Homo sapiens: one gene and its partner. The protein of the gene in region 1 purifies or fractionates together with the protein of each later gene. This does not show direct contact. Each region holds a gene or a part of one and is shown in the gene's direction. Other genes may lie near its edges. The genes, in order: CIP2A and ALDH3A2.

Region 1 (9,525 bases):
TAAGAGTGAACTTACTGCAGTAATATGAAATTCCCAGCAGATACAAATGGAATCTATACAACTTGATATTATTTATAATGAATGAATTATAATAAAGTGTTCCTGGCTTTTGAAAGATGCATCAAAATAAGTGACTAGTAAAATGCCTCTTAAGTCTCTTCAGAATAATGGTATTCTTTTTTTCCCCCATATTTCTTTCTTTTTTGCTTATTTTAACATGGTTTCATTTGTCTTAACTGGTATGTTGAATTTGTCACAAATTACAAGAAAGAACATTAGTGATATTAAAATAATTTTTCCCTCTCCCCATAGCACATTCTTATATTTTCTGTCTGTTGGACATGTCTTGTATTTTATTAGAGAGTTTAATATTTTATTCATGTTACTGGAAAAGTTCTTATAAAAATAGCACTAAATAACTGGATACAGGTTCTTCACAAAGTCGTAAAAACAGAGAAAGGCTTAGGGTTTTGTCTAGCATTGTAAAATAAAATCCAAAGGGCTGGGGGGAACCAACTTTTTATTCTAGCGACTTTTCTGCTTTTTTAGTGTTTCATATCACATAATAAATACATGCAGGTTATGGTATAGGTTACATTCTTTGATTATACTAGCTTAATTTTAAGTGTTTGATTAAGCATCTGTGATGTCGTTAAGATTTTGTTCTTAATTCTCACCTGAAATGAGAATGCTGATGGTGTGCACACTTAGCAGTTTAGTGTTAATGGCTACCTCTGAGGACCATACCTTTTTAATTGAATACTGTATGTAGCGCGACCTTCATGTTGCTGCAGTTGTATCCATTTCCATTAATTTGATCATAGTGAGATTGTTTTTATCAGATAATGTATTAAGTTAAAAAAATATAACAGTATCCAACTTATTAGAAGTAAAGTCCTAAGTATATGTGACTAATACAGCTTTGCATGACCCAACAGATACCAGCTTATTAGATACTTAGTAAACTTTTAAATTGTAGGTATGTGTTGAGCATATGATATAGATGATAGTGGTAAAGTCTATCTTCTTTTTTTTTTTGAGGCACGGACACTTGCTAGTATGTTGAGAGAAGTTGAGAGAAAAAATGAAGAGCTTAGTGTGTTGCTGAAGGCGCAGCAAGTTGAATCAGAAAGAGCGCAGAGTGATATTGAGCATCTCTTTCAACATAATAGGAAGTTAGAGTCTGTGGCTGAAGAACATGAAATACTGACAAAATCCTACATGGAACTTCTTCAGAGGTAAATAAAGTAAAATCTTCTGTGTAAGGTTAGAACCTAGAATGAACATGCAGCATTTCTTTTCTGAGACCCGAAAATCCTTTTGTAAGCATTTCATATATTCTGATAACACATGAGGTAAGTAATTAGCAAGAAACTTAAGTCATTGTGAAATGAAGTGTTGCTTCCTCAAACTCAGTATCAATGTTGGAAACAAAATACAGGTCTTTCCAGTTGACTTCTTTTATGTATTCATAACAGTCAGCAGTCATTTGGGAGATAAGCTCCACAAGGACAAGTTTGTCTGTTTTGATCACTGACAGATCCCTAGGGCCTGTAGGAGTGCTTGCTGCATAGTTAGGCACTTCATTAATAATTTTTAAATAAACTTAGTTGTCAAATTAGTATTAGGTTGAATGGTCATTTCTGCAGATCAAAAGTAGTTGAATATTGGCAATTTCATATCATTCTGCCTAATAGAATGGAAATTTAGGTGTAAGTGTTTAACTCATCTCTTAATATCCTTGATTATAGTTTACTTCCATGTGTGATTACATCTGTAGAATAAGTTCACATAGGTGAATTGCTAAGTTAAAGGGTATGTATATTTAATATTTTGATAGATATTTCTAAATTTTCCTCCAAAATGTGATACAGATTGAGTGTCCTTTTTGAACACAATGGTAGCACTCAAAAAGTTTAATATTTTGGAGCACTTTTGATTTTAGACTGATTTTGGATTTTCAAATTAGTGTTGCTCAACCTGTACCAATTTGTGTGCCTACTAGCAAAGTTTGATTGGTTTTTCCTCCCTTATAAACTCTTTTATCTTTTTAGGCCAGTTGTAAAACTTCTGAATTACAGGGAAGACCAGGAACAATTATGTATTTTCTACCAACCCATAAAAGTAAATACACTCTGGGGGAACTTGTTTATTGCTTTATATTTTAAGATTGTTCTATGTTGTTAATACAGAGATATAGAAATTTTTAGCTTGGCATGGTACATATGCTTATTTCCCATCAATAATAATGAAGGGTGAGAAATGAATAGTATCTAGAAAATGATGACAAAGTGATTTTTTAACAGGATATTTACCCCAGCAACTTTTTACAAAGTCTGATTGTTTGAGGCACCACTGATAAAGTGTAGTATTAGTGATAAGCCAAGTTGAGAACGTCAGCAGTGAAGAAAATACGTTATAGAACTGAAATGGGTTCCATTTGCTCAATACAGTAAAACCAGGTATCTGCACCAAGGTTTGCAGTGATAGAAAAAAAGGCTTTTACTGCAGGGTGCCAAGTAAGGAGGAGCAGGCAGCCAAATGCTCAAATACTGACCTCCCCAATAGCTTGCAAGCAAGGATTTTTAAAGGCGAGTAAATTTCAGGAAAGTGGAAGTTACAGACAAAAATCATAAATAAATAGTTAAAGGTTATACATTGGTTTAAGTTTAAAGGACAGGATATTGTGAAGCAGGGGCTTACAGGTCATGGGTAGACCCAAAGATTTTTCGATTTGCAGTTGGTTAAGGAAGAGCAGCTTTGTTTAAACATTTGGGGTCAGTAGAAAAATGTTAACTAGCTAGGGAGAGTGACTTTGTTCAAGACCCTGAGAAAGAAACTTAGAACAAAGAACAGTGGTTAAAATTCAGCCTTCATTTTCTCCTTACCTGAGCTCTACTTGTCAATGGATCTGGTCAGTGGGCTTCCTCAATGAGGGTCCGGGTCTCTGAAATACAACTCAGGGACATGTGTTAAGTTGTTTTCTTTAAGTTCTATAAAGAATCAAGTATCACTGGTACTCTTAAGTTTGTTAACTTTGATTTAGGCTACTATTACCTTCCTGTTTAACAAGTTACTTATTTACTTCTAGGGCTATCTAGGTCCCTGGAATTTCCCTTGAGTGAACTCAGGATTTTCCTTTATTTTCCAGCTTGAGGTCCTCAGACCTCCTAAAAAGGGGATACCTGCTTTGTCTCACATAGAGAACCTAAGAGATAGGCAGCGTCCAAGAAAAATACGTGGTTTCTAAGACCTGCTTATGTTCCAGCTAGTGATTTAGGGGCTAGAAGGTGAAATTCCTTGAATGGACAAGTGGATAACATGTAAATGAAGCTGGCTGGGGAAAAGGTCATTTGTAATGGTCAGGACTGTCTAAAGGCACTCAAACTCAGATTGTTAAAATTCCTGTATGGATTAGATACAAAAACTGCTGGCCAAGTTTGGCTACTGGTTTTTTTTGTTTGTTTTGGTTTGGTTTTTGGGTTGCTTTTTAAAAATCTTTGTGCTTAGTGAAATAAAAAAGACATTTTATGCTTATGGTAGTTGAGTATCAAAGTATTACTTTAGAAAGGATTTTTTTCTGTGTTTACCTTGCAGGTAAAATACTTAGGACTATTAGATGCAGAGTTTTAAAGAGACAAATGTAGAACCCTAAACTTATTTATAGCAAATTATGTAATGCAATATCATCTGTAAAATAAGGCTTTATATCCATAAATATGAGATTAATGCCCCACACATTTCTATTTCATAGTAATTTTTACCACATCAGTCAACCAAAACATGTATTTACTGCCTTTTAGAGTAGATGAAATTCTGTTTATGTCCTGCTTGTTCATAACATTCCTTCTCTTCCAGCATATGCAATTTGGTTAGAAGAGATAGTAAAGAAAACACTGTGAGCTTCTTTTCTCCTTCATATGTTTTCCTCCATAATGATGCCAACTCATTTTCTTGTCTTTTCAGAAATGAAAGTACTGAAAAGAAGAATAAAGATTTACAGATCACATGTGATTCTCTGAATAAACAAATTGAGACAGTGAAAAAGTTGAATGAGTCACTCAAGGAACAAAATGAAAAGTAAAATCTCTAGTTCTATATTCTGAATATGTGGGATTTTTCAAAAACAAAATGATTCCCTTTATATAGAACATTGTTTTTTATTGATAAAATTAATAGAATTGTCACTTATTTTAGATATAAGATATGTATTTGGTGGAAGTTACAGGCAATTGCTGTTCTTAGAAATTTTGTTTTAAAGGCTGGGCATGGTAGCTCACGCCTATAATCCCAGCACTTTGGGAGGCTGAGGTGGGTGGAGCGCATGAGGTCAGGAGTTTGAGACCAGCGTGGCCAACATGGCGAAACTCTGTAAATACTGAAAATACAAAAATTAGCTGGGTGTTGTGGCGGGTGCCTGTAATCTCCGCTACCCAGAAGGCTGAGGCAGGAGAATCACTTGAGCCCGGGAGGCAGAGGTTGCAGTGAGCACAAGATCATGCCACTGCACTCCAGCCTGGGTGACAGAACGAGACCTTTTTTTTTTTTTTTTTTTTTTTATATTTTTAGTAGAGACGGGGTTTCACCATGTTAGCCAGGATGGTCTCGATCTCCTGACCTTGTGATCTGCCCGCCTTGGCCTCCCAAAGTGCTTGGTAGGGAGAAAAAGTTACAAATGGTATATGGTTCATTAATGTTTTCTTCTATTTTTTTTAATAACTTCAGAAGTATTGCCCAATTAATAGAGAAAGAAGAACAGAGAAAAGAAGTACAGAATCAGCTAGTAGACAGAGAACATAAGCTAGCAAGTAAGTGGCTTCTTATTTAATACATTTTCTATTTTTAATGTATTTATTTTGGAAGCATGAGTGGTTTTGTTTGCTTTTTTATTTTCTACTTATTGTTTTAAACTTTAAATCATATTTGGAATGGCTTCCCTTTTCTTGACATAATGTTTCACAAAAGCAGTTCGGTTTAATCAAGTTGAAAAAGTGGTACGTTTTTTAAATTTAGGAGCTATAAGAAATTGGCCAGGCACAGTGGCTCACTCCTGTAATCCCAGCACTTTGGGAGTTGGAGATGGGTAGATTGCTTGAGCTCAGGAGTTTGAGACCAGCCTGAGCAACATGGTGAAACCCCATCTCTACAAAAAATACAAAAATTTAGCCAGGTGTGTTAGTGTGCACCTGTAGTTCCAGCTACTCAGGAAGCTACAGTGGGAGAATCTCTTGAACCTGGATGTCAAGGCTGCAGTGAGCTATGTTCACGCCACTGCACTCCAACCTGGGTGACAAAGCAAGACTGTCTCAAAAAAAAAAAAAAAAAAAAAAAAAACAAAAGGAAAGAGATGATTGACCATTTAATTTAATTTAATTTTTTTATTATTTCAACTTTTAGAATCAGGGGGCATGTGTGCAGGTCTGTTACACTGGGTATATTGCATGACACGGATGTTTGGGGTATGGATCTCATCACCCAGGTAGTAAGCATAGTACCAAATAGGTAGCAATAGGTAATTTTCAACCTCCTGCCAACTCTAGTCTGCAGTGTCTATTGGTTCCATCTTTAAGTCTGTGTGTACTCAATGTTTAGTTCCCACTTAGAAGTGAAAACTTGGAGTATTTGGTTTTCTGTTCCTTCGTTAAATCACATAGGATTATGGATTGCCCTTTTCAAAATAAAAAAATGTTGAAGGAACGTAACAGCAGGTGGCAGTATTAGGTAACTTTTAGTTACTAGCTTCTTAATGGTATATTTGAAATGATCCTGAAAAACATTTTTGTTCTCACTTGCCTTAGAGCGCAGGCACCTACCTATATAATTTTTCATAGTTGTAGCTCTCCCTTTTCTAACCCTTACACTTTTGAGAATTGTCCTTTACCTATATAGCATATTATATTTAGAACAGAGGATGGAAGAAAGACATGGAGATTTGGTATTTTCTATAGAATACTGTCATAAGAGAAGTTTCTCTTCCTTGTTCTAGTTATTTCTCTTTTGCTCTTACAGTAGCTACTAGACCATTTCAGAGTAGTCAGTGTAAGACCTCTGAGTATAATACTTGACTTTTTTTTCTTTTAAGATTTGCATCAAAAAACAAAAGTACAAGAAGAAAAGATTAAAACCTTACAAAAGGAAAGGGAAGATAAGGAAGAAACCATTGATATCCTTAGAAAAGAATTAAGCAGAACAGAACAGATAAGAAAAGAGTTGAGCATTAAGGTAAGAATCTGTTCCATTTCTCATTTGCAGTAAAATAAAAAAGTCTGTTGTGAAAAGGGTGAATATGGATAAAGGAATGTACTGTTTCTTCAGCAAATTTTTTAGAAGATATTAGGATCTCAAAGCAGCTTGAGTATCATTTGTTATGAGGTTTTCATAATGTATTTTCTAAAATAGTTAAGCAGTTATTAAACAGATACTTTGTGTCAGCACCTGGTATTTTCAAGTGTGCAAAGAATACAGAAAGGGGTTACCAGTACTTGATGTCATATATAGGTAGCTGTATAATTTTCACTTTAACAAATATTATATAATGTGTTAATAAATATTTTCAACTTACAACTGAAGAAACTGAGTCTGAGGTTACTTACTAAAGTCACACAGCTAATAAGTGAATCAATAGGTATATATTCTGAATCTGAGTCCGGGGTTCTTTCTATATTACCATGGTTGCATAGCTTGAGTGGTAGCTATGAATTGTACTTTCTGGCCCGTTTACTACCAGGAAGATGAGAACAGACTAGGATTAAAGACTGATCTACTACTACTACTGAGTAACAGAAGAGGCATAAAATTTAGTACCACATTTACAGTTTTTCTGGTTCTGCTTTAATGTGATTATCTTATTAGTAATTTTAATATGTAGTGTGTAGTATTTTCTGCAAAATTTCAGCTGCTGGCATTAACTTAAGACAAGTTGAAAGTGTATTCTCAATTTGTATTATATTGTTTAATGATTATTCATTTTAAACTTACCATGTAATTGAATTAACTGAAGTATAATATTTATAGTATGTCTTGAAATGGTTGTTGTACAATAAAAAATAAAAGCATCTTAAAATATATGTATAGAGAAAACATTAAAGTTATTTTTCTTCTCAATTCTTCCTCCTCCCCCAACCCCAATTCCTTAGGCTTCCTCCCTAGAGGTTCAAAAGGCACAATTAGAAGGTCGTTTGGAAGAGAAAGAGTCCTTGGTGAAACTTCAGCAAGAGGAATTGAACAAACACTCCCACATGATAGCAATGATCCACAGTTTAAGTGGTGGAAAAATAAATCCAGAAACTGTGAATCTCAGTATATAGACATTATGGCATTTTGGAATTTGTAATCTCATGATATTTTTGATGTATTTATCTATTGGAGGGGGGGTGGGTAGGGGAGTTAATTTGTGACTTCGTAACAATAAGAAGTTATTATCTAATTTAGTAAAGACCCTGATCTGTTGCATGTTTTTTATTTGATAGTTTGAATAGAAATTTAATTTTCTAAGTTTTACTTTTTGTTTCTGGCTTTTATGGCTTAAGGTTTTCTTTGGTTCTTACATTAGAAAATCATTTTTAACCTCCATTATCATTTTTCTAAGGTTCTTTCCTTTTTCTTAGTTGCTTTCTATTCTGTTTTGCCTGTCTTATTTATTCTCATTTGTGATTATTTAGATCTTAAGACCAAACTTTCTTGGTATAACAGTCCTAAAGATTACAAAATAAAAATATAGAGAGAGTAAAAGTAAAAAGTAAAGTAAAAAGAGAGAAGGTATGATTTTACTGCTAGAGAAGTTTGTCTCTGAAGAAGCACAAAAGAAAATATTAGTGAATTTAAAATAATTTTTATACTGCTGTAGCATAATTTCTAAATTTGAAAAAAATGCAATGGTAATAAAATGTATAAAAATTAGAAAACTGTCATTGTGTTAAACTATTACATTTAAATGATTACATTTAACACAATAGCTGTCTCATAAAAAATCTAAGAACTTGTAGAATTATTTGTAAGGTATATTTAGTGTTTTTTTCTCTTTTTTCAAATGTTGCATAGTGGTCCAGATCATCTATAATTAATTATAAGTTTCTTATGATTTACATAAGGATAATTTGGATTCTACTCTTGCTGCATATTCAGAAAAATATTATTTACTGTTAATTCTGATATGAATTGTATTTAATTTGTTGTCCTAATAGTTTTTAATTGGTTCATTTAATTTTAAAGCATAGGTTAAATATCTTTATTTTTTTTAAAATACAAGGGTCCTTCTGTACTTTTCATTTGAATCATATCCTCTAACTACTCTGTAAGAAACGTTTTTACATCAATATTTTGATTGATTTTATTGCTATACCAATACAGTCATTAATTTTACTTGGTGTTTTCTTCACCATATGTCTGTTTGATTTAAGTGAATTTAGATTTGTACAGTTCTGGAAATTTTTTAAAAAATATTATGCAGAGTAAAACATTTTAAATTACTATTTGTTCTATAGAGGAGATACATTCTGTTTCTCTTTTGAAATTGCATGCATTTTCAACCAAATATGAAAAAGTTTAAGTGGATAGATAAGACTGAAGAATAAAAGGGTCTATAAAATAAAAGAGACAAAACGTTAAAGAAAGAAATGAATGAATGAACCAAAAATTCTAGGGAAAATCAATTTATCTTTCCAATTTAGACATCTTGAGACAGCCTAGCCTAGTGCTACCCTATACAATTTTCTGTGATAATGACAGTGTTCTATGATGTCCAGTCCCATAGCCAGTGGCTAAAAGTGGCCATTGAGCACTTGAAATTTGGCCTTTGCAACTGAAAAAACTAAATTTTTGATTTTATTAAATTTAATTTTGATAACCATCCTGTTAGATAATGCAGATCTGTCCCATTCTCACAAGTATGTGTTTAAAGAACTCAATTTGCCTTTTCTTAAAGATCTATATAAATAATTACCCCATTATATATATGTAGTAGCCCTTTCTTAATGTAATTTTAACCTGTTTATTTCTAATCTTCTCTCCCTAAAGAAGAAAGTCCGTACTGCAGCTTTGAAGAAGGTGAGTACTAATCATCATCCTTCATCTCTTTCTGTCTCTTGTAACACCTTTCATATTGTTTCTGTTGTTTTTCTGAGTGCCTTTACTATATCAGTTACTTTTTTTTTCTTGTTGGACTGTGTACCTCATATTAAAAAAGCAAAAGTGTGTGTAAATATTTTTTTTCTAAAAAAAAAAATTTAATCAAATTTGAACCACCACCATAGTCAGGGTTTTGTATGTGTGTATGCATGTCCATTTCCTAATGGAAAAAACAAAACTTAGGAAGTGCATCATTATATTAGGATTACTCGCATCCTCTTAAAATTTTGCTGGGGAGAGTTTGTCTCCAAAGTATACATTAACACAGTTCCGTTACTATTTACACTTGCCACTTGAACAAATAGACACATCTCATAAAATTTGGTTGGTTAAAGTTTATATTAAATTGTTCATTAATTTAATGTCAGGAAAAAAAGAATGAAACTGTATGCTGTGTCT
Region 2 (9,525 bases), on another chromosome or scaffold:
GGACAGAAGGTAGAGGGGTTTTCTAATGTGCCTTTGTTTTCTGCTCAGTTCTTACCTGCATTGTTCCCCAGCCCTTTGTTGGGAGGAGCAGCCTCTCCTTGAATTGTTTTGTGATTTGAGTAAAACGGGACTCCCCCTGTTCTAGAGAGGATGGGCAGAAAGAAATTCATTCCAAGTGAAGCTTTGTGGACATAGCCTGATCCTTGCTTTTCCCTTTAGAACATGACCTGCCTGCCTCTCCCACATGTGAGATGACTGACTCAGCTTTTTATTTCTCCTTTGGGACCTAGGCTAGGTGGGCTTTTCTACTCTCTACTAGAGCTATTACAAAATAGCCGATATGTAAACATTCTCATAACAAAAACCCAACCAGAAAAGCCACTGTCTTAAAGCCCTGTTCTATCCTCTCCCTTTGTAATACCGTCCTAAGTCAGTTGCTCCATGGGATGCGATGGCCCAGTTTGGCAGGACCATCTGTTCCTGGTTAAGGAAACCTTGTCCTATGACCAAGGAGCCTTGACCTATATAGCCACAGGTCCTTGTCTAGGAGGTAAACATATTGCCAGCACCCAGCACAGTGACTGACATGAGTGAGGGACAGGCGGGAAGAGGCCAATTGGTAGGTATTGCCAGATCCAAATTGGAAATGGTGGTGGCTTGTAGAGGGTGGTAGCAGGGGAGATAGTGGAAAGGGAAGGGGGTATTTTTGGGATCAAGCAGCAGGATTGGCTGATGGAGTGAATGTTGGAGGAGGGGGTGAATGAGAGAGGATGACTCCTGGGATTTTGGCTGGAGTAAGTAATAGTTTTGTAGCCCAAATGCTTAAAAGATTGGACTCTGTTGTCTCTGTTCCTCAGCTCACCACATAGGATCCTGGCATCCACTGTGCTAGTGCAGTAATCAACTCGGTAATTGTTCCATATGGTGTCTCCACTGCCCTCTAATTGCAAATCTAAGTGACTTGGGTTCAGTCCCTGTCCTACTTGACAAGATAGCCTGTGGCATCATTGACTATACCATCTTATTTAAAACAAAACAAGGCTGGGCGCAGTGGCTCATGCCTGTAATCCCAGCACTTTGGGAGGCCGAGGTGGGTGGATCACTTGAGGTCAGGAGTTCCAGACCAGCCTGGCCAACATGGTGAAACCCCATCTCTACTAAAAATACAAATGTTAGCTGGGTGTGGTGGTGCGTGCCTGTAGTCCCAGCTACCAGGGAGGCTGAGGCAGGAGAATTGCTTGAACCAGGGAGGTGGAGGTTGCAGTGAGCTGAGATTGCGCCACTGCACTCAAACCTGGCAAACAGAGCGAGACTCCGATCTCAAAATAAATAAATAAATAAATAAATAAATAAATAAATAAAAATAATAAAATAAAACAAGCAACCTATTATATACCCACAAAAATTAAAAATACAAAAAGAAGATGCAAAAGAAAAAAACAGGTTTACTCTCTTAGCAAATTTCAGGCATATAATACATTATTATAGTGGCCATGCTGTAAAAAAATAAAAATAAAAAATAAAAACAAGCCTTGACCCCCAAATGTAAAAAGAATACAGGCTTTTTAAGAAAACTTGGAAAAGATAGAAGAGCCCAAAGAATAAACATTTATATTACCCATAACCCCACTATGTAAAGATAACTGGTATATGTCTTGCACACATATGCACACACATATACACGGTCATCTGAATATTCTATTCAAAAAGGTATCATACTATATATTGTTCTGTACCCTGTATGTGACAGAATAGTGTGACACTTTTCCATGTCAATATTCTTGCATGTCATAATTTTAGTAGCTGCATACTTTTCCATCATATGAATGTGGCATATTTATGTAACCAATTCCCAGTATTAGATTTTTGTGATTTCAATTTTTTTGGTATTACGATTCTTATATAATGTATCTTTATGCAATCTCTGATTATTTCTTTAGGAAAAATGTCTACAAGTGTAATTACTCTGTTAAAAGGGCTTATACAATTTTCCAAATTGAAAAAAATGCTTTTTTCTTCTAATTCTCAAAGTAATATAGACACAGTGGCAAAAAGTCTAAACAGTTAAACTTTTTAATATTTTGGCATATAGTTTAGATTTTTCTTTTTTTTTTCTTTTTATCGAGACTGAGACTCCCTGTCACCTAAGCTGGAGTGCAGTGGTGTGATCTCAGCTCATTGCAACCTCCAACTCCTGGGTTCTAGCAATTCTCCTGGCTCAGCCTCCCAAGTAGCTGGAACTACAGGTGTGTGCCACCAGGCCCAGCTAATTTTTGTATTTTTAGTAGAGACACGGTTTTGCCATGTTAGCCAGCCTGGTCTCAAACTCCTGGGCTCAAGAGATCCACTTGCCTTGGCCTCCCAAAGTGCTGGGATTACAGGTGTGAGCCATCGCACCCAGCCTAGGTTTTTCTTTAGAAATGCTTCTCTTTAAGACTTTTGATAGATATTTCAAGTGTCTTTGCAGATTTCTGCCACTTTATATTCCCATGATCAGTATATGAGTGTTTACTTCCTTATATCCCCAATTCTGGATTATTCCATTATTAAATTTCTAGACAGAAAAGGGTCTCATTTCAATTTGTACTCCTTTGATTATTAGTGAGTTTGAATTTTTTTTACCACTCTCATGAATTTTCTATTTATGTCCTTTGATATTTTTGCTGTGTTCACATCTTCCTTATTATTGGTATATAAATAGCCTTTTTTATAAGTAAGAAAATCCTCAGTCCTATCTGTAATACATATCCCTTTCCAGATTTTAATTTTTCTTTTAATTTTATCTATGATTTGAAGCGTTTATTTATTTAGAGACAGAGTCTCACTCTGTCACCCAGGGTGGAGTGCAATGGCGCGACCTCGGTTCATTGCAACCTCTGACTCCTGGCTTCAAGCAATTCTCCTGCCCCAACCTCCCAAGTAGCTGGGATTACAGGCACCCGACACCACTCCTACCTAATTTTTGTAGTTTTAGTAGAGATGGGGTCTCACCATGTTGGCCAGGCTGGTCCTCAACTCCTGATCTCAGGTGATCCACCTGCCTTAGCCTCCCAAAGTGCTGGGATTACAGGCATGAGCCACCACATCTGGCCTAAGCCTGTGTGGCTTTTTGTTTTTTGGTTTCCGATTTGGAAAGTAGGCTTAGAAAAGCTTTCCCTATTTCATTATTATATAAATATCATCTGTAGGCTGGGTGCGGTTGCACACACCTGTAATCCCAGCACTTGGGGAGGCCAAGGCACCTGGCTAACATGGTGAAACCCCGTCTCTACTAAAAATACAAAAAATTAGCTGGGTGTGGCGGCACCACCTGTAATCCCAGCTACTTAGGAGGCTGAGGCAGTAGAATCACTTGAACCCTGGAGGCGGAGGTTGCAGTGAGCAGAGAGTGCACCACTGTACCTCCAGCTTGGGCAACAGAGCGAGACTCTGTCTCAAAAAAATAAGAATAAAATAAATAAATAATTAAATATTATCTGTAGTTTCCTTCCCTCCCTCCCTCCTTTTCTTCTTTTCTTTTCTTTTTTCTTTTCTTTTCTTTCCATTTAACCATGGAGTTGGCCAAGCATGGTGGCTCACACCTATAATCCCAGCACTTTGGGAGGCCGAGGCAGGTAGATCACCCGAGGTCAGAATCTTGAGACCAGCCTGGCCAACATGGTGAAAACTCATCTCCACAAAAAATACAAAAAAAAAAATTAGCTGGGCATTGTGGCATGCACATGTAGTCCCAGCTACTTGGGAGGCTGAGGCAGAAGAATCGCTTGAACCTGGGAGGCGGAGGCTGCAGTGAGCCAAGATCATGCCACTGCACTCCAGCCTGGGCAACAGAGCGAGACTCCATCTCAAAAAAACAAACAAACAAAAAAAACACCCTGGAGTTCACTTTAGAATGCCATACGCTGCATGATGTAATAATTTACCTTTTTTTTCCCAAAGAGTAAACTATGCTGGCACCATTTTTTGAAATAATCATCCTTATACCATCAGTACTCAATAAAAACACGTTTGGGTCATTCTTAGGGTTTTCTCATTGGTTGCATTATCTTTCTGGTTTGTTTTTTCCGTGGGCCAGTACCACAGTTTCAATTACAGTAGTTGTACAGTTAGCTTTATAAGTGACATTTAGTAAGTGCTTATTGTATGCCAGGTACTGCGGTTGAATCCACGCCTTTTCTTTTCTTTTTTTTCTTGTTTGAGATAGGGTCTCACTCTGTCACCCAAGCCAGAGTACAGTGGTGCAATCACGGCTCATTGCAGCCTCAACCTCTTAGGCTCAAACAATCTTCCCGCCTCAGCCTCCTGAATAGCTGGGATTACAAGGGTGCACCACCATGCCTGGCTAATTAAAAAAATTTTTTTTGTATAGAGGCGGGGTCTCACTGTGTTGCCCAGGCTGGTCTTGAATTCCTGGGCTCAAGCAATCCTCCCACCTCAGCCTCCCAACGTGCTGGGATTACAGGTGTGAGCCACCGTGCCCGGTCAAATGCACGCATTTTAGAGACAGACAACTAATAAGTAGTAAAGCCAAGAAATGAGCCAAAGTTGTCTGGCTCCAAAACCCACATATTCAACCAATCCAGTAGTTTGCTCTTTAGGACACAGTACTATTTCAATACCTAAAAGTAAAAGCTCCTCATTATTACTGTTTTTCGATGTTTTCTTGCTTGTTCTTATCTAAATTTATTTTTCCAGATGATCTTTGGAATCACTACCTCCTCCTACTTAAAACAAACAAACAAAACCTTCCGAAATCCCCTAGGATTTTTATTAAAATTGATTTAAACTTAAATTATTTTGGGAAGAATTTATATCTTTAAAATGTGGAGTCTTAATGGGAATATGTTATATCATCTCTTCATTTATATAGCCCTTTTATATCTTTCAACAAAACTTTGTAATTTCCTTCATGTCAGTTTTTTGCTTTTTATTTATTTTTTGAGACAGGGTCTCACTCTGTTGACCAGGCTGGAATGCAGTGTGGCACAATCATAGCTCACTGCAACTTTGAACTCCTGGGCTCAAGCAATCCTCCTGCATCAGCCTCCCAAATTTTTCCCAGTTTCTTACTACCTTGGTTATGTCTTTGGCTCGCCCCTCCCTTATTCTTTTTTTTTTTTTTTTTGAGACGGAGTCTCGCTCTGTCGCCCAGGCTGGAGTGCAGTGGCGCGATCTCAGCTCACTGCAACCTCCGCCTCCCAGGTTCAAGCAATTCTCCTACCTCAGCCTCCCAGGTAGCTGGGACTACAGGCGTGCGCCACCACGTCCAACTAATTTTTGTATTTTTAGTAGAGACGGGATTTAACGATGTTGGCCAGGATGGTCTTGATCTCTTGACCTTGTGATCCACCCGCCTTGGCCTCCCAAAGTGCTGGGATTACAGGCGTGAGCCACCGCACCCGGCCCCCTCCCTCATTCTTTACCCTCCCTCAGAGTTAGGGTTTCTCATGGTCTTGTCCTTGGGTCTCTTCTCACACCAGGCCTGCTTCATGAATGATTCCTTCCTGCAGCCTGGCCTTGGTAAACTGCTCCCTGGCCTCTGGTCACCTGTGTCTTATATCACACATGCCATTCCCTCTGCCCAGCTCACACTGCTCCGCTTTGTGCCTGTCAGTCTGTTGTACACACAATGAATTAGAGAAATGAAACTGTCACAGAGCATGGCTTTGTGGAGGGCAGAGATTTACACTTGCTTATTATCATCCAGCTGTGCAACCTTGTTGCCCTGTCTTACTTTCCACAGGCTTTGAGAAAGCAAGTGGGTGTGTGGGGCCATGGATGAATGAAGCCACATGGGATGGTGGGAAGAGAGCACATATAGCATTTAGAGTCTGATCCAGGTTCGGGTTCTGGCTTTGCCACTTAGCAGCCGTGTGACCCTGGGCAGGTTAACTGACCCTGTAAGCTCCCTTTCCCTCTCTGGAAATGAGGCTGCTGATAATTCACCAAGTGGGATTGTGGTGAGAATTATCTTAAGAGAATGATTTAACTCTTAGCACAGTCCCTGGCATAAATGAGAGCCACAGCTCTAGAAGAGGTGCAAGTCCTTGTCTTGCTCATGGAAAGCATCCTGTTTGACAGGGAAATTGACTTTTCCAGGGAAGTTGGTAAGGACTTCCTGAAAAGAGATACTTCAGCTGGCAGAGATGTTCAGTGGGGTTCCCAGGCAGCAGGGAGTGCATGTGAGCTTTCCCGGTCGTTGTTAGACAGAAGTAGCTTGCATCATCTACAGTGAAGCTTGTTTTGTCTGTTCCCTTTATTTCAGGTTCCAGTGGGATGGGAGCTTATCACGGAAAACATAGTTTTGATACTTTTTCTCATCAGCGTCCCTGTTTATTAAAAAGTTTAAAGAGAGAAGGTGCTAACAAACTCAGATATCCTCCCAACAGCCAGTCAAAGGTGGATTGGGGAAAATTTTTTCTCTTGAAACGGTTCAACAAAGAAAAACTCGGTCTCCTGTTGCTCACTTTCCTGGGTATTGTAGCCGCTGTGCTTGTCAAGGTGAGTCCCTATAACCCATGAGTGCCATTCAGTCTGGTCCTGGCCTGATGGCTGCCAGATGCATATTCTAGCAGGACTCTACATTAACTTGTAGAGTCTAAGACAGGGTCAGTGAACCACAGCCTGCTGGCCAGCTACCCGTTTTTGTCACTGAAGTTATTGGAACACAGCCACACCCACTTGTTTAATCATCCACAGCTGCTTTCATGGGACAGTGACAGAGCTGAGTAGTTGCAACAGAGGCTGAATGGCCCTCAGAGCCTAAATTATTACAGAAAAGTTTGCTGATCTCTGGTCTAAGAGATTAAAACAGCGTAGAACTTGATTGCAGAATTCTGAGCTGTCTGATCAAAGGGTTAGCCCTTTGATCCTTTTGGTATTGGACTTTCCTTGTCACTTACAGCTTTGTTCTTGAATGTGCATGAAATCAGCTTACCACAGAGGTGAAGGCAAGAACTCTGGTACAACAGCTTTGGTGAGGGATATTTTATTAGGCTTGAGTTTTTTTCCTCCAAAGTTCACTACCTGATAAAGTTTATCTTTGGTGATTAGTCATTATAGGGATGGGCTTGCAAAGAGGCCCTCATGATAGCTGCCTTCTCAAAGCAGTTTGCGTATTTTGAGATGAAAGAGGAAATCCGTAATTAAAGTTAAGATGGAATGAGGAAGGCAATTGTGTCTGTGGTGCCCTCAGCCGTTCAACTGAGGATATAACATTGAAAATATTGACCATATCAGTGAAGAATGGGCTTGGAAAAGGCAATGGTAATAGTTGTGTTTATGTTTTGTTTAAAATTTGAAAGGGGGCCGGCGCAGTGGCTCACACCTGTAATCCTAGCACTTCGGGAGGCTGAGGCAGGGGAATCACGAGGTCAGGAGTTCAAGACCAGCCTGACCAATATGGTGAAACCCTGTCTCTACTAAAAATACAAAAATTAGCCAGGCATGGTGGCACGCACCTGTAGTCCCAGCTACTCGGGAGGCTGAGGGAGGAGAATCACTTGAACCCGGGAGGTGGAGGTTGCAGTGAGCCAAGATCATGCCACTGCACTCCAGCCTGGGCAATAGAGCGAGACTCCATCTCAACAACAACAACAACAAAAATTTGAAAGGGGTTTGGCTCATCTTACAGTATCCCAGCCTTAGTGGAATTGGAGATACCAGTTGCATTTGAAATCATTTGGGTTTTCTCAGAAATACCAAGCTGTGCTGAGGAGAAAGGCCCTGTTGATTTTTCTGGTAGTTCACAGACTGCGTTGGTCCAGTAAGCAGAGATGAACACCAGATTTCAAAACCCAGCCCTGTCTGTTAAGAGTGAGGTAGGAACTTTTTGTTTTCTTTCTATATGTAAGGTGGGCCAAGTTGGGGTATGTTTTCAAGGGTTTTTTGGTTTGTTTTTGTTTTTGTTTTTGTTTTTGTTTTTATTTTTGTTTTTTTTTTGCTACAGTTGGAGGCTTAAGGGTTATTGAAAAAAGAATGGGCCGGGCGCAGTGGCTCACGCCTGTAATCCTAGCACTTTGGGAGGCCAAGGCAGGTGGATTGCCTGAGTTCCGGAGTTCGAGAACAGCCTGGCCAACATGGTGAAACCCCATCTCTACTAAAAATACAAACGTTAGCTGGGTGTGGTGGTACGTGACTGTAGTCCCAGCTACTAGGGAGGCTGAGGCAGGAGAATTGCTTTAACCCGGGAGGCAGAGGTTGCAGTGAGCCAAGATTGTGCCACTGCACTCCACCCTGGGTGACAGAGCAAGACTCCGTCTCCAAAAAAAAAGAAAGAAAAAAGAATGTTTAACTTACTTATCTCTAGACATTTTGGACCTGGGCCCAGAGTATCAGGGTGTTAAAACTCCACTTATCCACAATTTTAAAAGGGTGAAGTGACTTGCTAGGAATCTAAGAGAAGTGTGCAGAGGCAATGGCTTAGCTGCGTCCAGGTGAAGCATACATCATTTCTTGGAAAAGGGCAGCTGAGTGTGAGCCTCATTTCTCTTCCCCTTCTACTCAGCTCTCCTGGGGGAGGTGCCAGCTGACTAATTCAGACTTGTCACCATCTAGGCACTGAACTCTTTATGTCATAATTTAAGAATATGTTTTTTAAATCACTAAGTAGTTTTGATTTGTTTTCATTTTTAAAAAAAGGTTTGACTTTGGAATTCATGGCAGCAAATGTCGTGAAATCAAGGTGTAGTATACAATTTAGGGGCTACTTTCTTTGCCTTCCTGAGGCTGGAGGTGTGGTCGGAAGCTTACTTGGGTCTCTGGTCAATATCTGTCTCTTTTGTTCTTTTCCCAAGACCTCGGTTCCTCAGTTTGATAATGCATCTTGGTAGGATAGAATATTTTAGCCTCATGGAAAATACGGAGGCCCAGGCTGAGTCTGCATTCTCCAATCTTACCAAACCCCCAAGAAGCCTCCCTCAGGTGCAGTGCAGTGTGCCAGGCAGGTTCGAGTTCCCAAAGGGTTTGGCAGGCATGTTTCTCTGTGAGGGTCTAGAGAAGCAGCAATATATAAAAGAAGCAGCAATATATAAAACCTTTAGCAGAAACAAAAAAATGTGGTTTGATTCCTGGCTCAATGAACTTGGGCAAGGCCTTTTCTGAGCTCTTTCTTGGGCCTCAGCTTGCTCATCTACAGGGTGAGGGAGTAGGTGTCAGTGATTCCCCAGGCCACTTTCAACCCTTCCGCTCAATTCTCATTACTAATAGTTGTTAATATTTCTTTGGATTCAATCTGGAACTAGGTAGAGATTTGGTTTTCTTTTCCACTTTGCTGCTTTTCTGCTCCTTTCTGAGCTTTTAATCCTCTTTTTATCAAATTACCTTTTATTTAAAATAAATGACTTTGAATCTGTACTGTATATTTACCTGAATAGTCTATTTATTGTAATTACATTTTTCTGAAATGGCTTTTATGTACTTAATAGTTTCCTTATTTTGTTACACTCTTGGATTTTATTTTATTAATTACCTTACTAGAATTAGAAGGGATTTAGAGCAGAAGTATTGTACACAAAGTAAAGTTCC

The links.
Region 2: the proteins of CIP2A (region 1) and ALDH3A2 purify together in Homo sapiens (affinity purification with mass spectrometry; 3 studies listed by BioGRID and IntAct, with this or other methods). This does not show direct contact.

What each region holds. Positions count from the first base shown.
Region 1 is NC_000003.12:108,548,931-108,558,455, reverse strand, and holds the end of CIP2A (protein CIP2A), read left to right. Parts: intron 1-1,041; coding exon 1,042-1,238; intron 1,239-3,966; coding exon 3,967-4,080; intron 4,081-4,725; coding exon 4,726-4,808; intron 4,809-6,082; coding exon 6,083-6,222; intron 6,223-7,136; coding exon 7,137-7,307; 3' UTR 7,308-8,592; downstream 8,593-9,525.
Region 2 is NC_000017.11:19,665,456-19,674,980, forward strand, and holds part of ALDH3A2 (aldehyde dehydrogenase family 3 member A2), read left to right. Parts: intron 1-6,265; coding exon 6,266-6,501; intron 6,502-7,695; coding exon of another isoform or gene 7,696-7,779; exon of another isoform or gene 7,780-7,820; intron 7,821-9,525.